Linked DNA regions of Homo sapiens: region 1 is linked to region 2. Evidence: fine-mapped expression QTL. A gene starts in region 2. The other region holds a variant in brackets. All regions are shown on one strand. Distances are between the middles of the regions.

The links.
Region 1: its variant is fine-mapped to the expression of NLRP4 in testis (GTEx, PIP above 0.99).

The regions. Positions count from the first base shown.
Region 1 is chr19:55,873,627-55,890,306 of GRCh38, reverse strand. NLRP4 (NLR family pyrin domain containing 4) reads right to left here. Exons shown (of 10, transcript NM_134444.5): 8 at 13,141-13,311; 9 at 11,343-11,513; 10 at 8,452-8,837. The coding sequence ends at 8,720. Among named protein-coding and RNA genes, the nearest start is that of NLRP4, 45 kb to the right of the region's middle. The variant G/A (reference allele first, on the strand shown) is at 8,753.
Region 2 is chr19:55,832,649-55,847,971 of GRCh38, reverse strand. It overlaps NLRP4 (NLR family pyrin domain containing 4), which reads right to left and starts at 11,432. Exons shown (of 10, transcript NM_134444.5): 1 at 11,038-11,432. It also overlaps a transcript of NLRP11 not described here.

The sequences.
Region 1 (16,680 bases), 42 kb before region 2:
CCTCCTTCATGCTCAAACTCCAGAAATTCCAACTATTTTGTAGTTTTTTTTTTTTTTTTTTTTTTTTTTTAAGACACTCTCGCTCTGTCGCTCAGGCTGGAGTGCAGTGGTGCGATCTCGGCTCACTGCAACCTCCGCCTCCTGAGTTCAAGCAATTCTCCTGCCTCAGCCTCCCGAGTAGCTGGGACTACAGGCATGCGCCACCACACCCGGCTACTTTTTGTATTTTTAGTAGAGATGGGGTTTCACCCTGTTGGCCAAAATGGTCTCGATCTCTTGACCTTGTGATCTACCCGCCTCGGCTTCCCAAACTGCTGGGTTTACAGGCGTGAGCCACCATGCCTGGCCTAGTAGTTTCACTTTTAATTGGCATTTGCCTCTTCAACAACCACTTCATATCTTCCTGACTGACTCTAACCAGAGATTAATCTGTAGATTCCATTCTCACTGATATACTATAGCAAGAGGCTGTTTATCATGGGCCCTAAGCACCCCTGTACATTCTTTATGGGTATGCATAAAATGTTGGACCCTGACTTTTAAATTTCTTTTTTTTAATTTTTGTTTTTTTGCCAAGGACTTTTGCCAGGTTGTGTTTGCACTGAGCAAACTTGAGGGATAAGGTAACTTTCTACCCCAGACAAAAAGCAGGCTTGTTCTGCTTATTGAAAATCGGCAGATTCCCTAAGCTCAGCATGCTTCTCTTAATCCAGTCTACAGCAGGTACAGTCATCTATCATGGACCCTTTATGGCACCCAAAGCTGTGAGACTTGGGAAGTATGAGGAACTGATTAAAAGCAACAAGAAATACTGACTCATGCTTTTGTCATGGATGATAAAATTATTTGTTTCTGGGCCAGGAGTCTCATATCTTCTGCTAGCTTCCATGAAACAGGAACAGGCTTTTTGGCTCATAAGTAGAATAACACCCCAAACCCTTCTCAGTTCCTGAAGACAGCTGCCTTTTTGCTATACTTCACCCTGCTTAGAGTTTATCTATTTAGCTGACGGTACTCCAAACAGCCCCTCAAATTTGTCTAAACATCTTCCATGCTCTGCCTGCCCCTCTCACTTTGTCCTATGCACTTAAAACCACAAGCCTTTTTCCAATGTTCTACGTATTCCACACTTGTATCCAGATAGCTGAACATGCTGAAGGATGTTCAACCCTGCTTAAATTTATGGCTAATCCTAAGAGTTTTCTTACCGTTGCTTATGGTACTGTTGCACATGATACTGTAACATACTGCTTTAACCCGTTCTACTCAACTTCCATTGTCCTCAACAGTTCTCCATTTTCATGCTCAGTTGATTTTACATATTTCTTGAAGAAATAAGAATCCAGATCTTCCACAAGTACCCACTGCCACATCTACCAGCACCTGTACCCTGATAAGACAAAAATAAAGGCTCTGAGGCATAGAAAGTGTCAACCTGAGTTAGCTGCAGGACAAGAGAGGTAAACCCTCTAATACACAAAGGATTGGATGCTATGGGTTGAGACTTAAGATTGCTGCTCAAGGAGACTTGAAATAAATTTTCTCCAGAAAGTAAAAGTCTTCCTTCTCTATTCTGCAGATGTGCAGGACATGGAGGTAGAATGGGACCCTGTTTACAGGAATAATATTCAGGTTAATACAAAACCATCGTAAGGACCACCTCCCTTTCGCTTATTTTATCCATCTGAAATAGTTTTGTTGTTTTCTTTTTTGAGACAGAGTCTCGCTCTGTTGCCAGGCTGGAGTGCAGTGGTGCAATCTTGGCTCACTGCAACCTCCACCTCCCGGGTTCAAGTGATTCTCCTTCCTCAGCCTCCCGAGTAGCTGGGATTACAGGCACACACCACTATGCCCAGCTGATTTTTGTATTATTTTTAGTAGAGATGGGGCTTCACCATGTTGGCCAGGATAGTCTCGATCTCTTGACTTTCTGATCCACCCACCTTGGCCTCCCAAAGTGCTGGGATTACAGGCGTGAGCCACCACGCCCGGCCAAAATAAAGTTTTTCTTAATCAGTTTGGTTGTTAGATGCCAATGATGTGGTCTTCCGTCCTTCCTCCATGAACTCACCACCACTCTGTCCTATCCATTTGCACAGAAATATGGTCTGCCTCCGGCCACAGACTCTGTCTTTACACCCCAGGATAATTCCTTATTTTGTTACTTTTGGGTCAGTCACTTCCCCTCTCTGGACCTAATTACCTCATCTTCAAAATGATGAGGACAGAAATAATTTGTAATTAAATTAGACCCAATTTTGGCTTTCACTTCTGCCTTTGTTAGCTCTGTGGCTGTGTAACACTTCTAAAATGTACTTTACTCACCTGAAAATATAAAACTGTATCCCGCACAGGATATGTGAAATCGATGTGTCATGGATGGAAATCTCTATGAAGAATAAGATCTTATTAAGTTGTAATTTTCTCTCCCCCGCTCTAACACCAAGAGTCTTTCTTGTACTATTTTATTATTCAATAAGCAGACGCTATCAGAAGCAGTCTTACAGAATAGCTGGAGATCCATTTAGCATTTCATAGCTTATAAAACACCTTCCTAGAGGGTCTAAATCCCCATCAAAGCCCTGTAAGATAGGATAGCCTTACTTTACTGATTTAAAAGCAAAGATACCAAAAGAAAATGCTTTACAACAGATTACAGAGATAGTAAGTCAAACTGGCCTATAAATCCAACTTTTCTATTTTAAGATCTGACCCACTTTACAACACCTGATGGGATCTTTCAATAAGTTGAAGGCTATAATCCTTCTATCCATCCATGTTCTCACTATTAGACATAGTAAAACCCAGAGTCCTTGAAATAAATACTTCATTCTCTTCCTTTTTCTATATCTTTACTGCCCTTTGTAGATGAAATCTGGGATAGAAAGAGTGGGAGACGTATGTGAACTAATTTAGAAAATATTGTCAGGGCAATAAAGGTTAAAAATAAAATCAAAGGTTAATTGCCTTAATCTTCATCTCATTGATTCATATTCAGTTACCAGCTATTAAAATGGGCCATATTTTATTTTGAGACAGGGTCTCACTCTGTCACCCAGGCTGGAGTGCAGTGGCACCATCTCGGCTCACTGCAACCTCTGCCTCCCAGGCTCAAGGGATCCTGCCACTTCAGCCTCCCGAGTAGCTGGGACTACAGGTGTGTGCCACCATGTAACTTTTTTTAGTAGAGATGAGGTTTTGCCATGTTGCCCAGGCTGGTCTCAAACTTCTGAGCTCAACCGATCCTCCAGCCTTGGCCTCCCAGAGTGCTGGGATTACAGGCGTGAGCCACCAAACCTGGCCAACCATGTTATTTCTGATAATCTGACAAGATAAATAAAGACTATCCCAAGATTTCTCCATTGTTTCTTTAAAAATAACAGAGATGGGCTGGGCACGGTGGCTCACACCTGTAATCCCAGCACTCTGGGAGGCCGAGGTAGGCAGATCACGAGGTCAGGAGATTGAGACCATCCTGGCCAACATGGTGAAACCCCGTCTCTACTAAAATACAAAAAAAAAATTAGCCAGGTGTGGTGGTGCGCACCTGTAGTCCCACTTACTCAGAAGGCTGAGTCAGAGGAATTGCTTGAACCCGGGAGGTGGAGGTTGCAGTGAGCAGAGATCATGCCACTGCATTCCAGCCTGGTGACAGAGCGAGACTCTGTCTCAGAGAAAAAAAACAACAACAACAAACAAAAAACCAGGGATGGCCTGGCATGGTGGCTCACACCTGTAATCCCAGCACTTCAGGAGGCCGAGGTGGGCAGATCACAAGGTCAAGAGATTGAGACCATCCTGGCCAACATGGTGAAACCCTGTCTCTACTAAAAATATAAAAATTAGCTGGGCATGGTGGCAGGCACCTGTAGTCCCAGCTACTCAGGAGGCTGAGGCAGGAGAATTGCTTGAACCCAGGAGGCAGAGGCTGCAGTGAGCTGAGATCGCGCCACTGTACTCCAGACTGGTGACAGAGCGAGACTTCATCTCAAAAAACAGACAAAAACACAGGGATATCCTCTGTTTAATGCTTGATCCACAAATTCTCAATTACTAAATTTTCAATTTACTAATCAATACTCAAGTCAATCATATTTAGTCTACTCAATTACTAATTTAGGAATTTTTTTTGTTGTTATTCTACAATTTCTAAGTTTGTCCTAGAATTCAATTACATCAAAGTATCTTAAAGCAACATTTTTTTAGAGTAGACAGATGATTTCAAATCCACTGTACAGTCAGGCCAATGTTACTTTGTAGGACTGGGGGGGCCCATAATAGGTCTTGGAGGGGGTTTGGAAGGGGTAATTGGTGATTCAGGAAAAGAGAAGAGATGAGATAGAAGGGATTCCAGTGTACCTTGACTGCTGAACTTTTTTCTAGGCTGCCTCCAAATTATGAAGCCCGTGAACCAAGACAGACCAATTAGCTTGTGACCAATTGTCTAACTTCAAGCCTATACTTATGAGGAAGGTAGACGGATTATTTGTGTCTCCAGCTTCATTTACCTTTCCTCCCTCTCCTTTTACCCACCCTGCTTGCTGTCTTTTTTGACACTCACTTCCTCACCCACCACCTTGCAATTTTTTTTTAAGACAGTCTCGCTCTGTTGCCCAGGCTGGAGCACAATGGTGCAATCTCAGCTCACTGCAACCTCCACCTCCTGGGTTCCAGTGATTCTCCTGCCTCAGCCTCCTCAGTAGCTGGGACTACAGGTGTGTTCCACCGTGTCCGGCTAATTTTTGTATTTTTAGTAGAGACGGGGTTTCACCATGTTGGCCAGGCTGGTCTCGAACTCCTGACCTCATGATCCACCTGCCTCAGCCTCCCAAAATGCTGGGATTACAGGCGTGAGCCACTGCACCCGGCCAACCATGCAATCTTAAAAGCTTGGCTAGATGTGCCCAGGACTAATGTGTGGCTGAGGTGAGTCAAGCTTGGTGCACAGCTCAGGTTATGAGAGACAGAGGTGGTAGAGTGCTGAAACAGCCCAGGAGATCCTTGGACTGAAGAAGAGACAGATGGAATTCCAGGAATAATGAACTTGGGTGGAAAAGGATTCCCAGGGTGAAGGCAGCCAGAGTGACAGCTTCTTAGCTTGGAAGCAGTTACTTGTACCCTTTAGGCCAATTTTCCCATTACAAGAAGGGTCTTATAGCATCAACCTCAGATTTTGCAAGAATTGAAATAACATATAAAATATTCAGCTTGTGGTAAGCACCTGTCAATGTATTAATAGCTCTTGGGTGAATAATCTCCTTCAATTCTGTCATTAAGATTCTTTACTTGTAACTTAGACTTTTTATAGCTTAGTACCTCTTTTTTTGTGATTAAAAAAAAAAAGTTTTTCAGACAGTGCCTTGCTGTGTCACCCAGACTAGAGTGTAGTGGTGTGATCGCGGCTCACTGCGGCCTCAACCTCCCAGGATCAAGTGGTCTTCCTTCCCCAGCCTCCTGAGTAGCTGGGACCACAGGCATGAGTCGCCACGCCCAGATAATTAAAAAATAATAATAATAATAATTCTAGATAGATATAGATAGATAGATAGATAGATAGATAGATAGATAGATAGATAGATAGATAGATAGTAGAGGTAGGGTCTCTCTATGTTGCCCAAGCTGGTCTCTAACTCCTGGGCTCAAGCGATCCTCCTGACTTGGCCTCCCGAGGTGCTGGGATTACAGGCGTAAACCACTGTGCTGGGCAGCTCAGTACCCGTTCTCTATCAGCACTTCCTTCTCCCTCTTTTCTACTGACCTGTATTTTTAGTGGAGGGAAAACCGTTAGGAGAAAAATGTTAATGTTCCTGCTGGGGGTGGAAATGGACATCTCATGAACATAATTAAGGTAGCTGGAGAATAGGTTCTTTGGTTCCTCAAGCTGCTTTTATATTTTATCACGTCTATTGCACCCAGGTGCAATAGATAGTCCTTAATCATTACCACTTTACAGATGACAGACTAAATGACTTCCCAGATTTTCCTGTTTGTTATTTTTCTTTCCACACTTTTTTTGAGATGGAGTTTCACTCCTGTTGCCCAGGCTGGAGTGCAATGGTATGATCTCTGCCTGCTGCAACCTCTGCCTCCTGGGTTCAAGCGATTCTCCTGCCTCAGCCTCCCGAGTAGCTGGGATTCCAGGCATGCACCACCACCACGCCCGGCTAATTTTTTGTATTTTTAATAAAGACAGGATTTTTCCACGTTGGTCAGGCTGGTCTCAAACTCCTGACCTCAGGTGATCCACCTGCCTCGGCCTCCCAAAGTGCTGGGAATACAGGCATGAGCCACTGCACCCAGCCTCCCCACTTTCTTTTTATTGTGGTAAAACATGCGTAACAAAATTTTACCATTTTAACCCATTTAAAGTGTACATCCCTGTGGCCTTGAGCACACTCACATTTTACAACCATCACCACCATCCATCTCCAGAACTTTTCCATCTTGCAAAACAAACTCTATGCTCATTAAATAACTCCATCTTCTCCTCCTTCCCCTGGCCTCTGGTAGCCAACATTTTACTTTTTGCCTCTATGAATTTGGCTACTGTAAGTACCTCATAGAAGGAGAATGTACGGTATTTGCTCTTTTGTGACTGGCTTATTTCATTTAGCATAATATCCTCAAGGTTCATCTATGTTGTGTCATATATCAGCATGTCCTTCCTTTTGAAGACTCAGTATTTCATTTTATTTATATGCCACATTTTGTTTATCCATTCACCCATTGATGGACATTCAGGTTGCTGATTTTCTCAATCTTCACTCCTAAATCAGTGGCACAGAAGTTCAGAAGTGAGGCCGGGCACGGTGGCTCACGCCTGTAATTGCAGCACTTTGGGAGGCCAAGGAGGACAGATCATGAGGTCAGGAGTTCTAGACCAGCCTGACCAACATGGTGAAACCCCGTCTCTACTAAAAATAGTAAAATTAGCCATGTGTGGTGGCACGCGCCTGTAATCCCAGCTACTCGGGAGGCTGAGGCAGGAGAATTGCTTGAACCCGGGAGGTGGAGGGTGCAGTGGGCAAAGATCGCACCACTGCAATCTAGCCTGGGTGACAGAGCGAGGATCTGTCTCCAAAAAAAAAAAAAAAAAAATTCAGAAGTGAAATACCCCCATTCCTAAAATTTCCTTTCAGCTCCCACTCCCAAGAGATCTTTATTCAAAGGTAGGGGAGACAGGGTAGCCTCAGAACTCAAGAGGCCCAATGAGGAAAGGAGAGCCAGAGGGGAGTTTGGGGAAGAATATGAGAGGCAAAGACCGTGAGGAGAGGTAATATTAGCAATGCCATGGAAATTACCCAAACATTCACATGAACCCCAAAATATATACCACTATTATGTACCAATAAAAAAGGTGCTTTCATCAGGCAAGAACAGATCAGGAGCCCAACCTGGAATCCTAGTAGGACTGGCAGAAAGAAGGGTGCCCAAGTCAGACCAGCCTTTCTAGTGCTTTCAGTGTGGCCAGCGTCTTTCCAAGTCAACACGGGGAGGGGGCCACAGTTTCTTCAACCTGCACTCCTATTCCAGTCATTCATCAGTAGCAAACACTGTTTCAAGATTTTCCAGGCAGTATGGAGATTTCCCAAAGAACTAAACATAGAGCTACCATTTTGTCCGGCAACCTCACTACCGAGTTCTATCCAAAGCAAGAGAAATCATACTAAAAAGATACCTGCATCCATGTGTTTACTGGAGCACTCTCCACAATAGCAAAGTCATGGGATCAACATAAGTGTCCACCAGCAGATGAGTGGATCAAGAAAACATGATTTATAGACAGTGGAATCCTATTCAGCCATAAAAAGAATAAAATCATGTCTTTTGCAGCAACATGGATGGAACTCAAGCCATGATCTTAAGTGAGATAACTCAGAAACTAAGTCAAATAATGCATGTTCTTACTTGTATGTGAGAGCTAAATAATATATAAAGAGTGGCTGGATGCAGTGGCTCACGCCTGTAATCCCACCACTGTGAAAGGCTGAGGCAGGTGGATCACCTGAGGTCGGGAGTTCAAGACCAGCCTGACCAACATGGAGAAACCCCATCTCTACTTAAAAAAAAAAAAAAAAAAATACAAAATTAGCCAGGCGTGGTGGTGCATGCCTGTAATCCCAGCTACTCAGGAGGCTGAGGCAGGAGAAATCGCTTGAACCCAGGAGGCGGAGGTTGTGGTGAGCCGCGATTGCACCATTGCACTCCAGCCTGGGCAACAAGAGCGAAAATCTATCTCAAAAAAAAAAAAAAAGTGTGGAATAGTAGACATTGGAGGCTCAGGAGGGTGAGAGGGAGGTGCAGGGTGAGAACTGACCTAATGGGTACAATGTACACTATCTGTGTGATAGGTATACTAAAAGCCCAGATTTTCCCACACAATATATACATGTAACAAAACCATACTCGTACCCCTTAAATTTATACAAATAAAAAAAGGCAAAAAAAGAATTTCCAATGTTTAGAAATGTAACACTTTATTGAGGGGTTAAGAGGTCCTTGTGAGACCGAGAGACCATGAAGGCCTTTCAGTGACTCATCCAAGGCCACAGAGCACATAAAAACCACGTGTATCATATCAAATCTATGAATGGGGTGCCAGAAATCTCACAACTCAGAGTATCAATGATTTGTATCTCCTGGGTGCAGTGTCATGTAAGTAACGGTCCCAGTCCCTGTCCTTTGCAGGTGTTCGAGTCAGAGCCCAGGTTCCTCGCAATCAGATCTCTACCCTTGTGATTGTGTCACAGTC[G/A]TCTGTGATGGTCAGGTTAGGATTTCTCTCTTCCTCAGCCGTCAGAAGTGCCTGGGTTTCCTCATCAAAATCAGTTTTTCTCAGCCTGGTAAAATATTTTAAGAGGTTCTATTTTTAATTCACATACTTTTTCCCTTTTCTGCAGCTCATCTTTCTCCCTAATTCATCCCAGGACAAGCCTAGGAAACCCTGGTGTTACCTCCAAGAGGAAAGACATACACATCAAATGCAGCGGTATGCTGATAAATGTTACCCCTGGATCCCCAGAAAATAAATAAAGTCCCAATTTATAGCTTTGCCAATTTCTGTGGTGTAAATTCTCCAAGGCAATCATGGCCAATTTTGAGCTGCCCACTTGCTGTCACTAAACAGAGTTACAAAGACAGGTACACACACACACACACACACACACACACACGTGGCTCTCACCAGCTTGTAGGAGCTGGCTCCAATATGTCACTGGACATAAATAAATGTCCAGAATTGGTAATAGAAGGCATGAACTCCACACAAACATTTGGATTTGCAACAAGAAGTCAGTGGGAGTTAGGGAGAAAGACTGAAGCTATTTTTACTTTTTCAAAGATAAAGTTAATAGTTTCCATTATCCGAGTACCTGGGCCCTGGCCCTCTGCTAAGGCTTTTTACATGCCTATCTCATTAAATGTTCACAACTGCCTTATGAGGTAGCATAATTGTCCCGACTTGTGATGAAGACAATGAGAACAATGTTAAGGTCACAAAACCAGAAAGTGGTAGTCTGGATACAAATTCAAGCAATTTGTTTCTGGAGCCCCCATACGTTGTATCATTGCTTTGAATCAGAAGGATTAAGTATCACCGTGTCTTGGTCCTTCCTTTTACGTATAATATCTCTCATCTCCATTTGGCATCTGTTTGCGTGCAACTGTCCCACACTGTTGGGGTAAGCTATGTTCTTTAGCACAACTATGTATCTTAATACACATCTTTGTGAGACTATCTATGGTAGGGGCTGGAGGAAGATGAAAACTCACTTATTTAGTTCTGCCATAGTTATCACATTATCTGATGCATACTTTCATAATTACCATGCCAAATAATCATCCCTATTTTGTAGATAGGAGGCTGATAATCAAAGAGGACAAATGCCTTACCCTGGCTTACAGGGCCAAACATGGCAAGGCTAGGAGACAAACACAGACCTCCGTGACTCAGAATGCAGACAATTTGAGTCCTTCCCCTTAATCACGTGTCTACTTTGGTAGTCTACATTCTGAATCTTTAGCAAACATTAAAATGAGAAAGAAACAATGCCAAGCACTCAGCCTTTCCAGGTGGAGATTTATAAGGATGGACTTCAAGAAAACAAACCTGTATCTTCACAAAATGGAAAAAAAAAAATCAGTGAATGTTCTTTAGCGTTAGAGTTATAACAGTTTTAACCCATTATATTTCCCTTTTCTGGAAATGAACAGCCTAATAACTGCCTATGATTACCTTCATCTCATATTGGTTTGAAAACAGTAGGGGAAAATGAATGAGAAAAATGTTAAGGACTCTATAGTTATCTAGTAAAATAATGTTTGTGGGATTATATGTAATTATAAATATAACAAATTAAAATATAAATTATGTTTATATAAGTTTCTATTTATAAATGTTATACTTATGAATATACATATAACTTGTATTTACACATAAATATTTAAAATATAAACATGTATCATAATTTGTATTATAATAATAAGTGATATAGGAGGTAAAAAATTATTTAGGCAGATAGTGAGGGCAAAAGTCCTCAGCAGAGCTTCCCTTCTAACAAAAACCAGCCCAAGAAATCATTTCTTTTCTAACAAAGAGCATCCTGAAAAACTGAGCTGCAAACATAAATAAGGGAGCGCGAAGATTGCATGGGGGGAATGCCAGCAGCTGCGCCAGTGAAAAGAGCTACCTGGGGGCCAGGCCTGTTCACCATGGAAGCACCATCTTCCCTTTTTTATTAGCATGGGTACAGTAAGAAAGAAATGGGCAACATAGTGCAGCTCAGGCAGAGAACCTGCCTGCTTAATAAAAGACTGGGGTGGGGGCTGCCAGAAATTCACACCCTATGCAAACGGCACACCTGGTCCTAACCAGTTTTTCATGCCCTATGTAGATCAGACACCACACCTCCCACCAGCTCGTCTATAAAACCCTCTGCATTTCACCATGGATCGGGCAATCCATTTTTCCGAGACCCCTCTCTGTAGCAGACAGCTCTTCTTTCTTTTGCCTATTAAACTTCTGCTCTTAACCTCACTCTTTGTGTATCTGCGTCCTTGGATCTCTGCGTCCTTGGATCTCCACGGCCCTGGGACAATGAACCTCGGGTGTTACCCCAGACAATGAGGCCACTTCACAAGTGTTTCCATTTGTTGGACATTCACTGTTCACCACTTACTGTGGTAAGAGTTTTATACTCACCTGCTTGGTTCTTACTCCTGCAACAACCCTGAGACAAGGAACATCATTTGCATTTTAAATGCAACGTGATTACACTGCAGGTCCCAGCCAATCCCTTCTTAGCCCGGAGCACTCTGCCCATAGAGCACAACAGACCCCAGCTCACCCGAGCACCTGCAGGGCACACTCTGGGTGTCTCAGGGCCTCACAGAGTACAACCACCCCTGTGTGGTCCAAGGTGTTCAAGGTCAGGTTGAGCTGCTGCAGGGTCTTACTGCAGGTGAGAACAGACGCGAGATCCTTACAGCAGGTGCTCGTTAACCCACATTCTTCCAACCTGCAATAAAAAGACACATGGTAAGATGCGGCCCCAGCCTCAGGGTGGAGGTAGGATGGGATGTGAGCTAGACGTCTAGTTGAGGCACACCCCATTGCCTCAAGTGCAATCTCTCACAGTCCAGTGTTTACGACCTCAGATCACGCGTCTGTGGGTAGGTGGTAAAAGTAGCCATAAGTGTCCATTCTTCTCTGTATCCCTGCCCACAGCAATGTGACTTTGCAGCTCATTCCACTAACAGAGTCTATTTCCGGCTTCATACCTTGCTTTGGATAATATAACATATTATCCAAAAAAAGGTATGAAGCCGTCTCAGATAACAATGGAAGCAAGATTAGGAGAGTTCTGAGCCACCATTTTGGGTGTTTTTCTTCTTTGGAGATGGGGTCTCTGTCATCCTGGCTGAAGTGCAGCAGCATGACCATGGCTCACTGCAGCCTTGACCTGCTGGGTTCTAGCAATTTTCCTGCCTCAGCCTCCTGAGTAGCTGGGACTACAGGCATGCACCACGCCTGCGGGCTAATTTTTGTGGAGATGGGGTTTCTGTCATCCCGGCTGAAGTGCAGTGGCATGATCATGGCTCATTGCAGCCTTGACCTCCTGGGTTCTAGCAATTTTCCTTCCTCAGCCTCCTGAGTAACTGGGGCTACAGGCATGCACCACGCCTGGCTAATTTTTATGGAGATGGGGTTTTACCATGTTGCCCAGCCTGTTCTTGAACTCCTAGCCTCAAGCTATTGGCTTGCCTCAGGCTCCTTTAGTGCTGGGACTGCAGGACTAAGCTATCACACCTGGTGATCTTGGATGTTTTCTATACTTCATCTCTTGAACTCCTGAGATGCTGCTATGGGCTCATTTCTGTCCCTGCCAAAATTTATACGTTGAAGTCCTAAACCCCAGTACCCCAAAATGTGATCATATTTGGATACAAGGTCTTTATAGAGGCAATTAAGCTAAAATGAGGACACTGGGGGGATTCTAATCATATGACTGGTGTTCTTATAAGAGGAAATTTAGACACACACACACAGAGGGAAGAGAACATGAAGACACAGGGAGAAGACAGATGGTTATCGACAAGACAAGAAGGGCCTGAAGCAGATTCTCCCTCATGGCCTTCAGAAGGAGCCAACTCTGCTGACACTTTGATCTCAGACTTTCAGCCTCCATAACCGTGAAGTGATAAATTCATTACCTAAGCCACCCAGTCCATGCTACTTTTTAAACCCTGGCAAACTGATACAGATGCCATGTCAATGAGCCCAGGCCAACCAGTTAGATAATGAGACGTGGCCCAGTTACACCTGTCATCCCCAAGGGGACAGCCAACCCAGCCAGCCAACCTCCATACCATATAGCAAGGTCAACCCAAACCAGCCAATCCCTCAGTTAACCACAGCTTCCTAAGCACACCTGGCTGAGGTCAGTGACGCCTGCCCAGACAAGCAGAGCCAGCAGCAATCTAACTTCTCATTGCCTTAAGCCCTGAAGTTTTACACTGGTTCATGATGCAACCACAGCTAGCTGCTATGTGGTCCTGTTGGAGTTTTCATCTTTCTCTTTCTTCCCATCCATTTTCCGTCTTTGCCACTCATGAAAACATAACCAGGAGCTTGGCGATACCCACCCAAGAATCTCTAAGCGGCAATCCGTATGCGTCAGAGCCCGACACAACAGCTGCACACCCACATCTCCGATTTCATTGCACCCAATTTGCAGAATCTTCAGGTTTTGATTGCTGATGAGAGCAGAGGCGAGGTCTTCACAGCCAGCAGCAGTGATAAAACATTTTACCAAACTGCAAAGGAGTAAGGGTACCATGCTTAAAGGCTATTACACCTCAGTCTAATATCAGGAAAAGAGACACCAAAGCACGACAGCCTTTGTCATTCATGTGGATAGGCACCGTCAGTCCTCCATATCCACAGATTCAACTAGTGGCAGATTGAAATTATTGAAGAATTAAAACAATAACACATAACACGCAACACTAAAAAATACAAACGAAAAAACCAATAGAGTATAACAACTGTTCACACAACATTTACATTGTATTACATATCACAGTAACTTAGAGATGATTTACAGTATTATGGGAAGATGCCTGTACATTATATGCAAACACTATATAGGCCAGATGCGGTGGCTCATGCGTGTAATCCCAGCAGTTCGGGAGGCTGAGGTGGGTGGATCACCTGAGGTCAGAAGTTCCAGACCAGCCTGGCCAAAATGGTGAAACCCTCATCTCTACTAAAAAAAACACAAAAAATACAAAAAATTAGCCGGGCATGGCGATGCGTGCCTGTAGTCCCAGCTACCCAGGAGGTTGAGGCACAAGAATCACTTGAACTCGGGAAGCAGAGATTGCAGTGAGCTGAGATCGCACCACTGCACTCCAGCCTGGGCGACAAAGTGAGAGACTGTCTCAAAACACACACTATGCCATTTTACATTAGGAACTTGAGCATCTACAGATTTTGGACTCCTCAGGGGAAATCTGTAGCCAACCTCCTATGGATATGGAGGGACAACTGAATTGTCTCAGCATCGTTTGTTGGAGGTCTATCCTCTCTCTGCACCAGTGATACGCTATTCCATGATGCGACATCTGAACACACGTGGATCAGTCTGTTTCTGAGATCTCTATTCTGTGTCTCTGGTCTGTCTGCTTATCCCTGTGTGAATCTCATGCTTTTTTAATTTCTAAAACTTTAGATGACACATTTAGAGCAAGAGTTCCTACATTATTTTTATTTGAGACGGAGTTTCACTCCTGTTGTCCAGGCTGGAATGCAACGGCACAATCTCAGCTCACTGCAACCTCTGCCTCACGGGTTCAGGTGATTCTCCTGCCTCAGCCTCCTGAGTAGCTGGTATTACAGGCATCCACCATCATACCCAGCTAATTCTGTATTTTTTTTTTTTTCAGTAGAGACGGGGTTTCACTATGTTGGTCAAGCTGGTCTTGAACTCCTGACCTCAGGTGATCCACCCACCTGAGCCTCCCAAAGTGCTGAGATTACAGGCGTGAGCCACCGCGCCTGGCCCACTTTTTATATTTTAGGTGTTTCTTAGGTATTCTTGGCCTCTTGCAAGTTCCATACACATTTTAAAATTTACTTTTCAAGTTCAACTCAATCACCAAACAAAAACATCGCATTTTCACTGGGATTTCATGAAAGCAAATGAATTCAACTTACAGAAAACTGACTTTTTAGATACTGAATATTTCAATCTTTGAATATAACATTGTTTTATACCATAATTTGATCATATTCTCTATAAAAGTCTCACATATATCACAGTAGCTATTTCTAGGTAATTTCTTTTTTATGTTACTGTAAAAGGTACTTTTATTTAATTCCACTAGCTTATTACTTCTTGTTGGTATATCAGTAACTGTTTTTGATATATTGTTTCAAGCAAGCTTGTTAGACTAATTCTGATAACTTAGCTACAGATTTTCTTGGATTTTTCTATGTACATTCAAATCATCTGTATAGAATTAGGTGTTTCTTCAAAGATTACAGGTTTAGTGTTTTTCTTACCTTGAAGCATTTGCTAAGATTTTCAGGACACTGTTGACTAGAAGTGATTATAGCCACCGTTCTTATCTTTTTCATGATATTGAAGAGAAAGCTTTTCTCTCATCATTAGACAAATGTTTGCTTTAGATTTTTTTGAACATATTCTTTAGATCATCAAGGAAGTTCCCAAATAGTTTTTCAAGAATTGTATGTCTTAATTCAAACTTTTCTGCATTTTAGATCATGATTTTTATTTTTAACCAGTAAAGTGATTTACATTGATTTTTTTACTAATCTTTTTAATGTTAAAGCAACTTTACATTTTGGGGATAAGCCCAACTTAGTCATTATGTTTATTCTTTTAATACATTTATGGATTCTGCTTGCTAATATTCTGTTCAGTGTTTTTGCATTTCATGAATGACACTAGCCTTTAATTCTGCTTTCTTACAAAAATTGTAAGGATTATATTACAACCAATAAAATTCTTATTGGTTTCTGGCATCAAGATTATGCTAGCCACAAAAAATGGTGGGGAGTTTCTCCTCTTCTGATCCTGAAAAAGCTGATGTAAGAGTGGAATTATTTATTCTTTGAATGTCTGGTAAGAATCACCAATGAAGGCTTCTAAGCCTGGAATTTTCTATATAAAAAGATTTGACTGATTCATTTTTCTTTTGTCTTGAGTACATTTAGGTTCTATCATTTTAGAAGCTTATTGAGTCTTGAAAATATCTAAATTTTCAAGTTTATTGTGTAAAGTTGCTCATATGTAATCTTTTTAATATCTGTAGCATCTGTAGTAATGTTTCTTTTCCCATTCTTGACATAGACCTGCACTCTTCAGTGTGATAGCCAGCCACGTGTGACCACTGAGCACTTGGAATGTAGCTTGTCTGAATCTAGATGTGCCATAGTATAAAATACATAGTGAACCTTAGAGAGTTAATACAAAAAAGTAAAATCTCTCATTAGTAATTTTTTGTACTGATTACATATTGAAGTGATGTTTGATATATGGCTAAATAAACTATATTATTAAAATTAGTTTCAAATATTTACTTATAAAATTACTTTCAAATATTACATCACTTTTAATATGGCTACTTGAAAATTTAATATTACATGTGTGGCTTGCATTATATTCTATAGGATGGCATTAACAAAAACTGTTTTTTCCAAGAACCACCCTGCAGGTTTCTGATCTTTTCCATTGTGATTTTTGTTTCATTAGTTTCTGTCCTTATTTTTATTTCCTTCCATCCTTTAGGGGGTTTATTTTACCATTAAAAAAATCCTTAAGTTCATTATTCTTTAGATTCCTTTTAAAATATATACATGCACTACAGCTCCATCTGAGTTTGTTGCAAAGTATATTCCTTTTTCATTTCAACATATGTTCTAATTTCCATTATGATTTCTCTTAGATTCCTGGACTCTATATGGGAAGTAATTATGTTCACCTTGTAAGATTTAAAGTTCAACTGAGTAGGAAGATAATTTAAAAATTAGCATGAACCGAATAATACTTTGTCTTAAATTCTATTTTGTCTGATTCATACAGTTGCGTAAGCTTCCTTTTAATATTTGCGTGGTCTTTTTTTCTATCCTTTCATTTTCATCATTTTATTGAGGTAAAA
Region 2 (15,323 bases):
AGGCTAAGGCAGGCAGATCACGAGGTCAGGAGTTTGAGACCAGCCTGACCAAGATGGTGAAACCCCATCTCTACTAAAAATATTAAAAAATTAGCCGGGCGTGGTGGCAGGTGTCTGTAGTCTCAGCTACTCAGGAGGCTGAGGCAGGAGAGTCACTTGAACCCGGGAGGCAGAGGTTGCAGTGAGCTGAGATCGCACCATTGCACTCCAGCCTGGGCAACAGAGCGAGACTCCATCTCAAAAAAAAAAAAAAAAGGATATTAGGTAAAAAGGGGGGAATCTGAAGAAAGAATAATCTTAGTTAATAATCTATTAATACTGGTTTATTAGTTATGACAAATGTACCATGGTAACGAAAGTCGTTACTAGAGAAATGTGGCACAGGATTTATGGGAACTCTCTGCACTATTTTTGCAAACTTTTCTGTGTCTAAAACAAGTCTAAAATTTTAAAAGATACTAAAAACATAGGGCAAATAGTTATTCATATTAGATATATAAAAATCAACACATTTTATGAATATTTATGGAATCCTACACACAAGAGAACATTCTTTTCAAGCATACGTGGAACATTCATGATAATCAATTAGCTTGTAATTATGCTCATGATAATCAATTATGCTCTGAGCTTTAAAGGAAATCATAATTCAAAAACAAAAAGCCAACAGTAGCAAAGTCATCTTCTTTGTCTTAAGGGCAATGAAATTAGAGATCAATAGCAAAGTCAATAAAAGGGTTAAGTTATACAGTGGAAAATAAAAATAAAGCTGTTTTATTCATGGGTGGCCATTAGGCAGAATGTTGCTGCCCCCCCCTCAAATAAAATAGGTAATTTGGAGAAAAATTTAAAAAAAATTTAATAGCATCTAAGATCCAAAAATTAGGGGAAAGTAGCCAGGCGCCTATAGCCCCAGCTACTCAGGAGGCTGAGGCATGAGAATCTCTTGAACCTGGGAGGTGGGGGTTACAGTGAGCCAAGATTGTGCCACTGCACTCCAGCCTGGGTGACAGAACAAGACTGTCTCAAAATAAATAAATAAAACCCACAAAAATTAGGGAAAATTATTAAGCAGTATTCGGAATGAGAATATGATGATGGAAAGGTGACCTTCATGGCTTCTCCCCTGCGTGCTTTTGCCAATAGTCTTAAAAAGCCTACTTTTAGTAAAATCTTAATTATAGGAACATGTATCTGAGTCCTGAGGCCACCACTGAGCACCTAAGGCAATACTTCTCCAAGGAACATCAGCACCAACTGGTAACTTGCTATGCAAATCCCCAGGTCCTTCCCTAGACACACTAAATGCTGAGGGTAGGGCACAGCCATCTGTTAATTTTGGGCAAATAGTTAGTGATGATATTAGATATATAATATCAGTTATATATCTGTTATATAACATCAGTTATATATAATGTCAGTTAATTTTGACGCATGCCCAGATTTGAAAACCACTGACTTAAAGAATGACTTTGGGCAAGAACATTGCTGGTGCTTTGCTCTGAGACCATCTTGGAGAAGCAGGCAACTAGAGTTGGACTTTTCTTGATGTGGAGACAGTGTCAAGATCAGAGTGTACCAAAACAGAGATATAGACTAATGGAACAGAACAGAGCCCTCGGAAATAATGCCGCATATCTACAACTATCTGATCTTTGACAGACCTGACAAAAACAAGCAATGGGGAAAGGATTCCCTATTTAATAAATGGTGCTGGGAAAACTGGCTAGCCGTAAGTAGAAAGCTGAAACTGGATCCCTTCCTTATACCTTATACAAAAATTAATTCAAGATGGATTAGAGACTTACATGTTAGACCTAAAACCAGAAAAACCCTAGAAGAAAACCTAGGCATTACCATTCAGGACATAGGCATGGCCAAGGACTTCATGTCTAAAACACCAAGCAATGGCAACAAAAGACAAAATTGACAAATGGGATCTAATTAAACTAAAGAGCTTCTGCACAGCAAAAGAAACCACCATCAGAGTGATCAGGCAACCTACAGAATGGGAGAAAATTTTCGCAACCTACTCATCTGACAAAGGGCTAATATCCAGAATCTACAATGAACTCAAACAAATTTACAAGAAAAAAACAACCCCATCAAAAAGTGGGCAAAGGATATAAACAGACACTTCTCAAAAGAAGACATTTATGCAGCCAAAAAACACATGAAAAAATGCTCATCATCACTGGCCATCAGAGAAATGCAAATCAAAACCACAATGAGATACCATCTCACACCAGTTAGAATGGTGATCATTAAAAAGTCAGGAAACAACAGGTGCTGGAGAGGATGTGGAGAAATAGGAACACTTTTACACTGTTGGTGGGACTGTAAACTAGTTCAACCATTGTGGAAGTCGGTGTGGTGATTCCTCAGGGATCTAGAACTAGAAATACCATTTGACCCAGCCATCCCATTATTAGGTATATACCCAAAGGATTATAAATCATGCTGCTATAAAGACACATGCACACGTATGTTTATTGCAGCACTATTCACAATAGCAAAGACTTGGAACCAACCCAAATGTCCAACAATGATAGACTGGATTAAGAAAATGTGGCACATATACACCATGGAATACTATGCGGCCATAAAAAATGATGAGTTCATGTCCTTTGTGGGGACATGGATGAAGCTGGAAACCATCATTCTCAGCAAACTATTGCAAGGACAAAAAACCAAACACTGCATGTTCTCACTCATAGGTGGGAATTGAACAATGAGAACACATGGACACAGGAAGGGGAACATCACACACTGGGGACTGTTATGGGGTGGGGGGAGGGGGGAGGGATAGCATTAGGAGATGTACCTAATGCTAAATGACGAGTTAATGGGTGCAGCACACCAACATGGCACATGTATACATATGTAACAAACCTGCACGTTGTGCACATGTACCCTAAAACTTAAAGTATAATAATTAAAAAAAAGTGTAGCCTCTTGCCACAGGCTGAAATATTAATACCTCCGGCTCTGGGAAGAGATCCTCTGAAAGTGAGGGGAAAGACTGCATTCAGATTGGCTACAGATGGAACTTTAAATATTCCCCCAAACACACACACACATGCATACACACACGCACACACACTCCTCTACCACCACTACCACCACAAAAATCACCAGGGACTCTTTTCTGCATCCAATGTATGTCCCCCTGCAAAAGTTACATGCTGAAGTATGAAGTTTTTGAAAATAGCATACTCGTAGATACAATGAGTTACACTGGAGGTCACAAAGTGCAACTGAAGTCTGGGCTTGTTTGGAAATAGCATCCTTGCAGATGCAATTAGCTGTACTGGAACATGTAAGATGAGGTCATACTAAAGCAGGGTGGGCCCCCGATCCAATATAATTGGTGACCTTATTGAAAGAGGAAAATCTGGCCGGGCACAGTAGCTCACACCTGTAATCCCAGCACTTTGGGAGGCCAAGGTGGGCGGATCACCTGAGGTCAGGAGATCAAGACCAGCCTGGCCAACATGGTAAAATCCCATCTCTACCAAAAATACAAAACTTAGCCAAGTGGTGGTATGTGCCTGTCTTCCCAGCTACTCAGGAGGCTGAGGCAGGAGAATTGCTTGAACCCGGGAGGTTACAGTGAGCTGAGATCATGCCACTGCACTCCAGCCTGGGCAATAAAGTGAGACTCCATCTCGAAAAATAAAAAGAAAAAAGAAAGGGGAAAATCTGGACACATATGAATAGAGGGAAGAGGATACCATGCCACAGGGAAAATGCCACTTACTAACCAAAGCACACCTAAAGCAAGTAGAAGTTAATAGAGAGGAATAAACTGATTCTCCCTCACAGTCTTCAGAAGAAATTACGCCTGCCAGCACCTTGATTTTGGACTTATTAGCCTTCAGAACTGTGAGACAGTAAGTTTCTGTTGCTTAAGCTGTCTGTTTTGTGGTATGTTGTTACAGCAGCCCCAGGAAGCTAATACAATGTGTTAGTATCAGATTTGACAGAGATAATTAGTGGTCTAGAAGACACGTAAAGAGAAGTCATCCAAGAAGAGAGAGATAAAAAGATGAAAAGCACAGAAGAGAGGACAAGAGACTAAGGATGAAAAGGGCTAACACTTGTTACTGGCTCCCCAAAAGGAGAAAAGAGACTGTGGACCAGATGTAGTATGTTTTATTAGGTTGGTGCAAAAGTAATTGTGGTTTTTGCCATGAAAAAAATGCAAAAACCGCAATTACTTTTGTACCAACCTAATATAAGATTGCTACTAGGATGTTTCTTTTTATAATTTTTTTAATTGAGACAGTTTCACTCTTGTTGCCCAGGCTGGAGTGCAGTGGCACAATCTTAGCTCACTGCAAACTCCACCTCCCAGGTTCAAGTGATTCTCCTGCCTCAGCCTCCTGAGCAGCTGGGATCACAGGTGCCCATCACCACGCCTGGCTAATTTTTTGTATTTTTAGTAGAGACAGGGTTTCACCATGTTGGCCAGGCTGGTCTCGAACTCCTGACCTCAGGAGATCCACCCGCCTCTGCCTCCCAAACTGCTAGGATTACAGGTGTGTGAGCCACTGTGCCTGGCCTGGATGTTTCTATTAACCAATGAAAAAAAAATCAATCTACTAATTAAGAAGCCCAATAAAGTCCAAGAGTATAAATAACAAACCCATGTCTAGACACATTATAGGGAAACATAATGACATTAGAACATAAAGAAGTTACACAAAAGGGAAAATCTTGAAAGCATTCCAGAGTGGGGGTAAGGCAAGGGGAGGACAATAATTTATTTGAACGGTTGTGCCATTATGTTGACAGCTGACCTGATCAGGTGCTACAGAAAGAAGAAACTAAAGAAGCAACCATGCAAGGTGCTCAAAACAAATAGCTGCTGACTCAAGTCTAACCAGAATAAAATAATCTTTAAGAAATAAGGCCAGGCACGGTGGCTGACGCCTGTAATCCCAGCACTTTGGGAGGCCGAGGTGGGCGGATCACGAGGTCAGGAGATCAAGACCATCCTGGCTAACACGGTGAAACCCCATCTCTACTAAATACACAAAAAATTAGCCGGGCGTGGTGGCGGGCACCTGTAGTCTCAGCTACTGGGGAGGCTGAGGCAGGAGAACGGCGTGAACCCGGGAGGCAGAGCTTGCAGTGAGCTGAGATCGCACCTCTCCACTCCAGCCTGGGTGACAGAGCAACACTCCATCTCAAAAATAAAAATAAAATAAAAAGAAATAAAAGTAGACATTTGCAGATAAATGACAAATTTTCCAACAGAAGACTTACACTATAGGAAATTTTGAAAATTGACCATTGGAGAGAAGGAAAATTATTGCAGGTGAAAATTAAGAGATGCCACAGTCAATTAGAAGACAAGTTGCTTTATAGAGTCAGTCTTGTGAGACAGAAAATAGAATTAAAATTTATCACAGCTGGCACGTAAATCTAAAAAAAAAAGAAAAAGGACATCAAGTGCTCTAATGTTCTTCTCTGGGAAGATGACAGAAGTAAAAATTTGATAAGAAATTCTGATAAGCCCACTGATAGAATTCTGATATAACCATAAAAAAGTTTGTCTGCCAAAGTAAATAGAGAAGAGGAAAAATGACAAACTAACCTAAAAAATAAAGAAGGACAGAAATAGGAACCTAGAACAGATAAGGTAAATAAAAAAGTGATGGTCAACTCGAACTCTTATTAGTAATTACACAGAATAATTGCCTCAATGGTACAGAGGCAAAGATGGTGAGACTAAATACAAAAACCAAATACTTGCTCTTTAAAGAGGTAACTAAGAACGGAAAAACGAAAGTTGAAAGACTAAACATGCAAATTTGAACCTAAAAAATCTGGGGTAACTCACCCCGTTAGAATGGCTAAAGAAAATAACAAATGTTGGCAAGGATGCAGAGAAAAGGCAACTCTTACACACCATTGGTAGGAATGTAAGTTAGCAGAACCACTATGGAAAACAGTATGGAGGTTTCTAAAACAATTAAGAATAGAACCTACCATATAACCCAGTAATTCTACTGCTGGGTATATACCTCTTTAAAAAAGGAAATTCGTATGTCAAAGAGATATCCTTACTTCCATGTCTATTGCAGCACCTTTTTTTTCTTGAGACAGAGTCTCGCACTATCACCCAGGCTGGAGTGCAGTGGTACGATCTCGGCTCACTGCAACCTCTGCCTCCCAGGTTCACACCATTCTCCTGCCTCAGCTTCCCAAGTATCTGGTACTACAGGTGCCTGCCACCATGCCCGGCTAACTTTTTTTTGTATTTTTAATAGAGATGGGGTTTCACCATGTTAGCCAGGATGGTCTCAATCTCCTGACCTCGTGATCTGCCTGCCTCGGCCTCCCAAAGTGCTGGGATTACAGGCATGAGCCACCGCACCCGGCCTGCAGCACTATTACTAATAACCAAGATATAGAAACAAACTAAGTGCCTATCAATAAATGAATGCATAAAGAAAATGTGGTATATATACTCAATGGAATATTATTTAGCCATAAAAAATAATGAAATCTTGCCATTTGTGGCAACCTGGATGAACGTGGAGGACACGAGGTAAAATAAGGCAGGCACAGAAAGAAAACTACCATATGATCTCATTTATATGGGGAATCTAAAAAGATGAACTTATAGAAGTAGAGAGTAGAACAGTGGTTACTAGAGGCTGGGGAAGGGATGGGAGAGTAACGGGAGACCAGGAGCGATTGGTCAACAGGCACGCTTACAGTTAGAAAGCGCAAGTTCTAGTGTTCTCTTACAAATTAGGGTAACTAAAGCAAATAACAGTGTGGCGGATATTTCAAAATAGCTAGAAGATTTTGAGTATCACTACAAAGAAATGTGTCTAAACAAACAGATATGATAATTACCCTGATTGGATCATTATACAATGGATATATGTGTCCAAACATCACACTGTATCCCATAAATATGTACAATTATATGTCAATTTAAGAAATTTTTAAATGGGAAATCTGAACAAAATAGCATGTCATGCATACGTAAGGTATGATAACCCATCTTACTCACCAAACTCTTCATCCATTCCATTTATTGCACGACTTGAATTAGAAGGAAAAGATATTGAATTATTCCAGGCTTTTAAAAAAATCTGTTGTCATAATATTGATACCAGAAAAGCAGACCCCAAGCCAAAACATTGGTGAGAAATCTAGATGCTGCATAACCACAGGGCTCAAATTACCAGGAAGAGAGAACAATTATAATCATACATGCAACAATAACACAGCCTTAAAATATACGAATGATCAGCCGGGTGCTGTGGCTCACGCCTATAATCCCAGCACTTTGGGAGGCCGAGGTGGGCGGATCACGAGGTCAGGAGATCTAGACCAGCCTGGCTAACATGGTAAAACCCCGTCTCTACTAAAAATACCAAAAAATAAAAAATAATAAATTAGCTGGGCGTGGTGGCAGGCACCTGTAATCCCAGCTACTCGGGAGGCTGAGGCAGGAGAATTGCTTGAACCCGGGAGGCAAAGCTTGCAGTGAGCTGAGATGGCACCACTGCATTCCAGCCTGGGCAACAGAGCAAGACTCTGTCTCAAAAAGAAAAAAGAAAATATGTATACACACACACACACACACACACACACACACACATACACATACACATATGTCTATACACACACACCCCCGACAATGGTCAGCACCATAAGGAGAATTAGGTAAGTCCCTAATCATAGCAGGATATTTTATCAATTTGTTCCAGCAATTAAACAAACAAGTTAAAAAGAAAATAAAGGGCTTAAAAACAATGGAAAAATTTTACCTTGTGGACACAGACCTTTTCATTCAATAAATGGAAAAAACACTATAAGATAGACGAATCAGCTACCAATGTCAGCTATATACTGATCCTCAGGGCAAGCTTCAACATATTTCAAATAATATAAGTTACACAGAATATTCTGATCATAATTTAAGTCAGAATTTGACAATGAAATGAAGGACATTCCAAAATTAAGAAACATACTTCTAAGTAATCTATGAATAAAGAGAAAATATCGGATATAAGATTTTGAACTGAATATTTAATGTTGCATATGAAGTGAGTGAAATACAGCTAAATCAGGAGCTGGAAAAATGTGCTACTTCAAAGGCATAAGGAAGGTTGAAAATTCATAAACTAATTATACATTTAGATAAAAAGCAAAACACACCAAAAGAAAGTAGAAAAAATAATCAATGAAATAAAAATTAAAATACAAGACTCTGTCAAAAGTAGATTCTTTGAAAATACAAACTGGATAACCCCCAACAAGTCTGATGAATAAGAAGACATGAGCAATTAATACCAGAAACAGAAGACACCACTACATACCCTACAGATATCAAAAATTGAGACTATTACCATTTTTATGCCAATAAAACTGATAATTTTGTTCAAATATATAAATTCTTAGAAAATGACAACTTTCATCTATTTTGTGTGTGTGAAGTTTTGAAAGCTTTTTTTTTTTTTTTTAACTCTTCCCCCACAGAAGACTTCAGGCTCAAACATCTTCATCAGCAAATTATGTCAAAATTTAAATAAAAATTATTTTTCCAGAATCTAAGAGAGAGCATGTGTGTGGGTATGTGTGTGTGAGAGCATAAGCATGTGTGTATATGTGTGTGAAAGAGCACACACACACACTCAAACTGAGGCATAGGTTAGATAATGAAAACAGGTTTACATCATCCTCAGCAAATTAACACTGGAACAGAAAACCAAACACTGCATGTTCTCACACAGAAGTGTGAGTTGAACAATAAGAACACAAACGGACACAGGGAGGGGAACATTCACACACTGAGGCCCGTGGGTGAGGGGTGGGAAAGGGGAGGGAGAGCATTAGGACAAATACCTAATGCATGTGGGGCTTAAAACCTAGATGACCAGTTGACAGGTGCAGCAAACCACCATGCCACGTGTACACCTATGTAACAAACCTGCACATTCAGCACATGTATCCCAAAACTTAAATTTAAAAAAAGAAAAAAAAAAAACAGGCTTAGTGTAAGAATTTCCATGTTCGGTCTACTTGTGAAAACAAATGCAAAAATTAAAAAGTCCATTAAGTGTAAGATCTGTACATTAGATAATATCATTCTATTAATTTCCTGTTTTTTATATAGTGTGGTTATCAAAAGAGCTTACTTTTATTTTTATTTTTAGAAGATAAACCCTGAAGCATTTAGGGTAAATTATTAGATGTAAATTTGTACAATGTGTACAAATCTTGAACAGATCAGGAAAAATACTTATATAAGAGTAGAGGGACACCATATAAGGTAAACTTTTAACATTTGGTGATCCTAAGGATATATTCTTGAAGCTGTTCTCTAAGTGTAAAATCACATCATTTTTTTCTTTTAATAGCGTACTAGCTTCCTTGGGCTGGCATGACAACGTACCACAAACTAGGTAACTTAAAACAGAAACCTACTGTCTCATGGTTCTGGAGCCTAGATGTCCAAAATCAAAGTGTTGGCAGGGTGCTGCTCTCTCTGAAACCCAGGGGAGCCCTTCCTTGCCTCTTACTGGCTTCTGTGGTTTGCTGGCAACCTGTGTCACTCTTTGGTTTGCAGCTATGTAATTTCACTCTGACTTTGTCACATGCCATTCTGCTTGTCTCTACCTTCATGTGGCCATTTTTTCTAAGATGGAGTTTCACTCTTGTTGCCCAGGCTGGAATGCAATGGCGCAATCTTGGCTCACTGCAACCTCTGCCTCCCAGGTTCAAGCAATCCTCCTGCCTCAGCCTCCTGAGTAGCTGGGATTACAGGCATGCGCCACCACAGTTGGCTAATTTTTTGTATTTCACCATGTTGGTCAGGCTGGTCTCGAACCCCCAACCTCGGGTGATCCACCCGCCTCGGCCTCCCAAAGTGCTGGGATTATAGGTGTGAGCCACTGCATCCAGCTTGAGACCGAGTCTCATTCTGTCACCCAGGCTGGAGTGCAATGGTGCAATCTCGGCACACTGCAATCTCCACCTCCTGGGTTCAGGCAATTCTCCTGCCTCAGCCTCCTGAGTAGCTGGGATTACAGGCACCTGCCACCATACCCAGCTGATTTTTGTATTTTTAGTAGAGACAGGGTTTTGCCATGTTTTCCAGGCTTGTCTTAAACTCCTGAGCTCAGATGATCCACCCACCTCAACCTCCCAAAGTGCTGGTGTTACAGGCATGAGCCACCACACCCAGCCGCATGTGGCCGTTTTCATAAGGACACCCGTCATTAAGTTAGGGGGGCCACTCACTCCAGTATGACCTCGCCTTAACTAATTACATCTGCAACAACCTTATTTTGTCACCCTATAAAGGGGTTAGGACTTTGTGTGTGTGTGTGTGTTTTTAGGGTTGGGACACAATTCAACCCTTAACAGTAAAAACCAACTTTTATTGATATAGAAAGATAAATATTCTTTCTATATACGTTTCATAGTCTAAACAAATGGCATAATTGGAGAAGGGGGATGAAAAGAGGTTGGCTAATGGATACCAAGTTACACCTGTAGGTAGGAATAGGTGCTGGTGTTCAGTAGCACTATAGGTTGAATATACTTAATATCTTATTATTTTCGAGGGTTTTTCTAACTTTTATGTTAGGTTCAGGGGTACATATACACTGGTTATACAGGTAAACTCGTGTCACAGGGGTTTGGTGTACAGTTTTTCATCTCCCAGGTATTAAGAATAGGACCCCATAGCTATCTTTTCCTGACCCTCTCCCTCCTCCCACCTAAGGAGAGGATTCTGAATGTTCCTAACACAAAGAAATGATACAGGTATGAGGAGATGGATATGCTCATTACCCTGATTTAATGATACGTATACATGTACCAACACATCTCTCTGCAGCTAATATACATAATTAGTATGAGTCAACTAGAAGTGTGATTTTCTTTTTAAATCACATTCTGGAATTACAGTATCAAAGACGTTTCTGCCCTAGGTCAGAGAGCAAGCTCACAAGAGCAGAGAGGGCTTGGGTCCCACCTTTCATGGGAAGTCCCCCCCCTTACCTCATCCCTGTCTATGTTCTCCAGCTTCTCCTACATGTTTGTGTCAACAGAGATGAAGAATCTAATAAGAACATTCCCACCCTCGAAGCTCCAAGGTCTCCCTTCGTGACGAGTCTCCCCCACCTCCACCCCCCATTCTTCTCACAGGTCTCAGGCTCCTGGGAGGCACCTTATAAACACAGGGCGTTCATCTACCCCACTAACTGGAGAGAAGGAAAACGCTGGGTAAATAGAATGGAGAGGCCTGGCTGTGATCGATCAGCCTCAAGAAAGGAGACAGGGTAAAAGGGAGAAAGAAAAGGAAGACCCAAAGTAACCCAGGAAATCAGCACATAGAAGAGACGAACAGCCCAGCACGAAGCGCTGACTCACCGCTCCACGCCTTCCTGGTCCTTAATGATTGGCGGCTGGAAGCGGGAAGAAAAGATCCGTGGTGCCATTTGATTGGCCAACGAATTGCTCCCTTGCCATTGGCTCAGAGGGCTTTTGATGAACAGATCCAGAAAATATGTGAAGCGAAACGCCCACCGCCCCTTGAGGGGCTGTTCTAGACCTTTGCTCCTGGTGTCGTATAGAGCGGGGGATATTTCAAGCTGGAGGTTCCTATTGAGAATTCCCAGGGCTCACGGCTGCAGGGATGCTCCTCCAGTCTCTCCAAAATGGTTCATTTGGAGAGTTGGGGTGACTCTGTTTATAATTTAAATGTCTAATTCCTTCCTACATGCTAAACTCCTTGAAGAATGTTCGTGTGGCACAACATCTTTCTGCCGTAACTAAACCTGTCGTGCAAGAAGAAATTATTAATTATTATTAGATACGGTCTCACTCGGTCACCCAGGCTGGAGTGCAGTGGCGTCATCTCGGCCCACTGTAACCTCCACCTCCCGGGTTCAAGAGATTCTCCTGCCTCAGCCTGCTGAGTAGCTGGGATTACAGATGCACACCACCATGCCCGGCTAATTTTTGTATTTTCAGTAGAGACGGGCTTTCGCCATGTTGGCCAGGCTGGTCTCGAACCCTTGACCTCAAGTGATCTGCCCGCCTCGGCCTCCCGAAGTGCTGGGATTACAGGCATGAGCCACTGTGCCTGGCCTCGGCTAATTTTTGTATTTTCAGTAGAGACAGGGTTTCACCATGTTGGCCAGGCTGGTCTCGAACCCTTGACCTCAAGTGTTCTGACCGCCTCGGCCTCCCAAAGTGCCGGAATTACAGGCATGAGCCACTGTGCCTGGCCTCGGCTAATTTTTGTATTTTCAGTAGAGACAGGGTTTCACCATGTTGGCCAGGCTGGTCTCGAACCCTTGACCTCAAGTGATCTGCCCGCCTCGGCCTCCCAAAGTGCCGGGATTACAGGCATGAGCCACTGTGCCTGGCCTCGGCTAATTTTTGTATTTTCAGTAGAGACAGGGTTTCACCATGTTGGCCAGGCTGGTCTCGAACCCTTGACCTCAAGTGATCTGCCCGCCTCGGCCTCCCAAAGTGCTGGGATTACAGGCATGAGCCACTGTGCCTGGCCTGCAAGAAGAACTTAATGGATATCGGCTACTGTCTTTCTGCGTAGGCAGAACAGGCGCTAAGTTTTTTAGACGCAAGGTCGAGATTTCATCATTGGGCATGGTTTTCCTGCTATTCCAGCTTCCCTACAATCGTTACAGTCATCTTCTGGGTTCACGCCAAACCTCAGTGTCCTAGGAGCTATCCTTTTACAATCACCATTTTAGTTCCTCCTTATAAGAATCCTGAGTTCAGTGTTACGATGGTGATGATCCTGGTTTTGAAATATACACATCAAGGAGTGCAGAGAAACATAATGAGAACTTTAAGGAATTACTGTAACCATAACACAAGTCTCTGTGGTCCAGAACCTAGATTGGGAAGCAGACATGATGGGGACCTTTGCAGACTCATGTACCCATAAGAGCATGCCCGTTGCATCCTCAGGGGTTCCCACCAAAATAAATTTCCAGTTGTGAAGTGAACTTCATTCCCTTCGATTTTCTTTTTATTTTTCCTGGTGATACATGTTCCCCTAAGAGATATGTTTTGTTTTCCTCATTTTCGAATTATAGTGTATCATTCTGTGACTTGATTCTTTTCACTTATTATGTTTTTGAGATTAATCAATGCGAGTTTGTTATAGCTGCGGTTCATTTCTAGGTCTTGCCTCACGGTATTTAAATGTATGACTAGGTCACCATTTAATGATCCATTCTGTCAGTGATAGGTGGTTGGGTGGTTTCTCAGTTTTTGCCAATATGAACAATGCTGTTTTGAACCTTCTTGCACACATCAGTGAGCCCACAGGACTTTTGGATTACCTGAGTGGAATGACTGAGTCCCTGAGGCACAGGTGACTTCAGTTGCCTCTTCAGAAGTGGTTTCACTAATTACATTAGCATCATGCACAGTTGAATATCCCCATAGCTGCACCTTACTGCCTACTCCTGATGTTGTTGACATTTTAAAGTAGTCACCAAATATTAGTTGGAAAAAGTATTTTGTTGTTTTCATTTGCTTTTATCTGATTATTAATATACTTGAACATTGTTCTCATGTTTGTGAGCCATTTGTTGCCTCTTTTGTGAAATACCTTTTCATTGTTTTCCTTGTATTTCTATTGGTTGTGTTCTGTTTTTATTTGCATGAAGAAGTGCTTTACCTTTTCTGAAAAAGTGGTTTGGTCAGTTATGTGTGATGCACGTATTTTCATATATCTCCTCCTAGTTTGTGGTTTGTAGCTTTTGTTATATAAGAACCATTCACTGAAGAGTTTTTATTTTAAATGAAATCAAATTGATCAAAATGTACTTTATGTTTTATAAATGTGAGGTCTTGTTGACAAAAATCATTCCCTACTCCAACTCATGAAGATATCTAATATTGCCTTTTAAAATATGATAGAGTTTTGAATTTCACACAGAAGTATTAAGTCACTTGTAATTATTTTTCTCTAAGGTAGGGAGAAGGGATCCATTTTTTTTTTTTCATTTAAATACAAATGGCACCAGCTCCATTTAATGAATAGTTCACCTACGCCACTGCCCAGAAATCTGTTATAAACCAGCTTTTCGTATTTGCCTACATTGGTTTCTGGGTTCTATGTTTTTTTCACTATTATTTGTTCATCCGTGTGCCAATAAGTCTTTTTTTTTTTTTTTTTTTTTTTTTTGAGACGGAGTCGCTCTGTCGCCCAGGCTGGAGTGCGGTGGCCTGATCTCGGCTCACTGCAAGCTCCTCCTCCCGGGCTCAAGTAATTCTCCTGCCTCAGCCTCCCGAGTAGCTGGGACTACAGGCGCCCGCCACCACACCTGGCTAAATTTTTTTATATTTTTGGTAGAGACGGGGGTTTCACCGTGTTAGCCAGGATGGTCTCGATCTTCTGACCTTCTGATCTGCCCGCTTCAGCCTCCCAAAGTGCTGGGATTACAGGCATGAGCCACCGCCCCCGGCCAACCAATAAGTCTTAATTACCATAGTTTTTAAATTAAATCTTTATAGGGTAGGTCCAACTCAATCATCATTCCCACCTCCCACCCACCTATGTGCTTCAGGCGTCTCTTGGCTTGTACTAGTCCCTTCTATTTTCCACATACATTTCAGAATTATATTTTGATATGAAAATTTCTATTGGGATTTTATTGTTTTACTGAATATAAAGGTCTATTTGGGAGCATATTAACATCTTCATAATAATAATTCCTGTACAAGAATGTAATGTTATCCTTCATTTTTAAGGATTTTGTATATGGCAATAACATTGTATATCATTCAATAAGATTTACAATCTCTTATAAGAATTATTTCTAGTTTATATTTTTCTTGGAACTGCATGTGGCATCCTTTAAAATTTTAAATTCCAATTAGTTTTTTTTTAGAGAAACACAATCAGATTTGTATGTTGATTTATATTCACCAAAGCTGCTTTGAATCCTAACAATTTATCAATAGATTTAAGGGGAGAGAGTTTGCATGGATATTCAAATTATCTCCAATATGATAATTTCGCCTCTTTCTTTCAGATCCGTTTTCTTGTCCCAGTGAACAGGTGCACTATGTTGAAATAAGAGTGGTGACGGAGGCCTTGTTTATCTTGTATCTTATTGTAAAAGGTATTCTTTCATCACTTTCCCGTCCATTATGAGATTTTTGTTTGCTCTTGCTTTTTTGGAACCCTTTACTGGGTGAAGGAAATTCTTTTATTTCCTAACTTACAAAGATACATCTAAAACCATGAATAGATATAGACTCTTTTATATTTCCCCTTTTGCACCTATGAAGATGCCCCT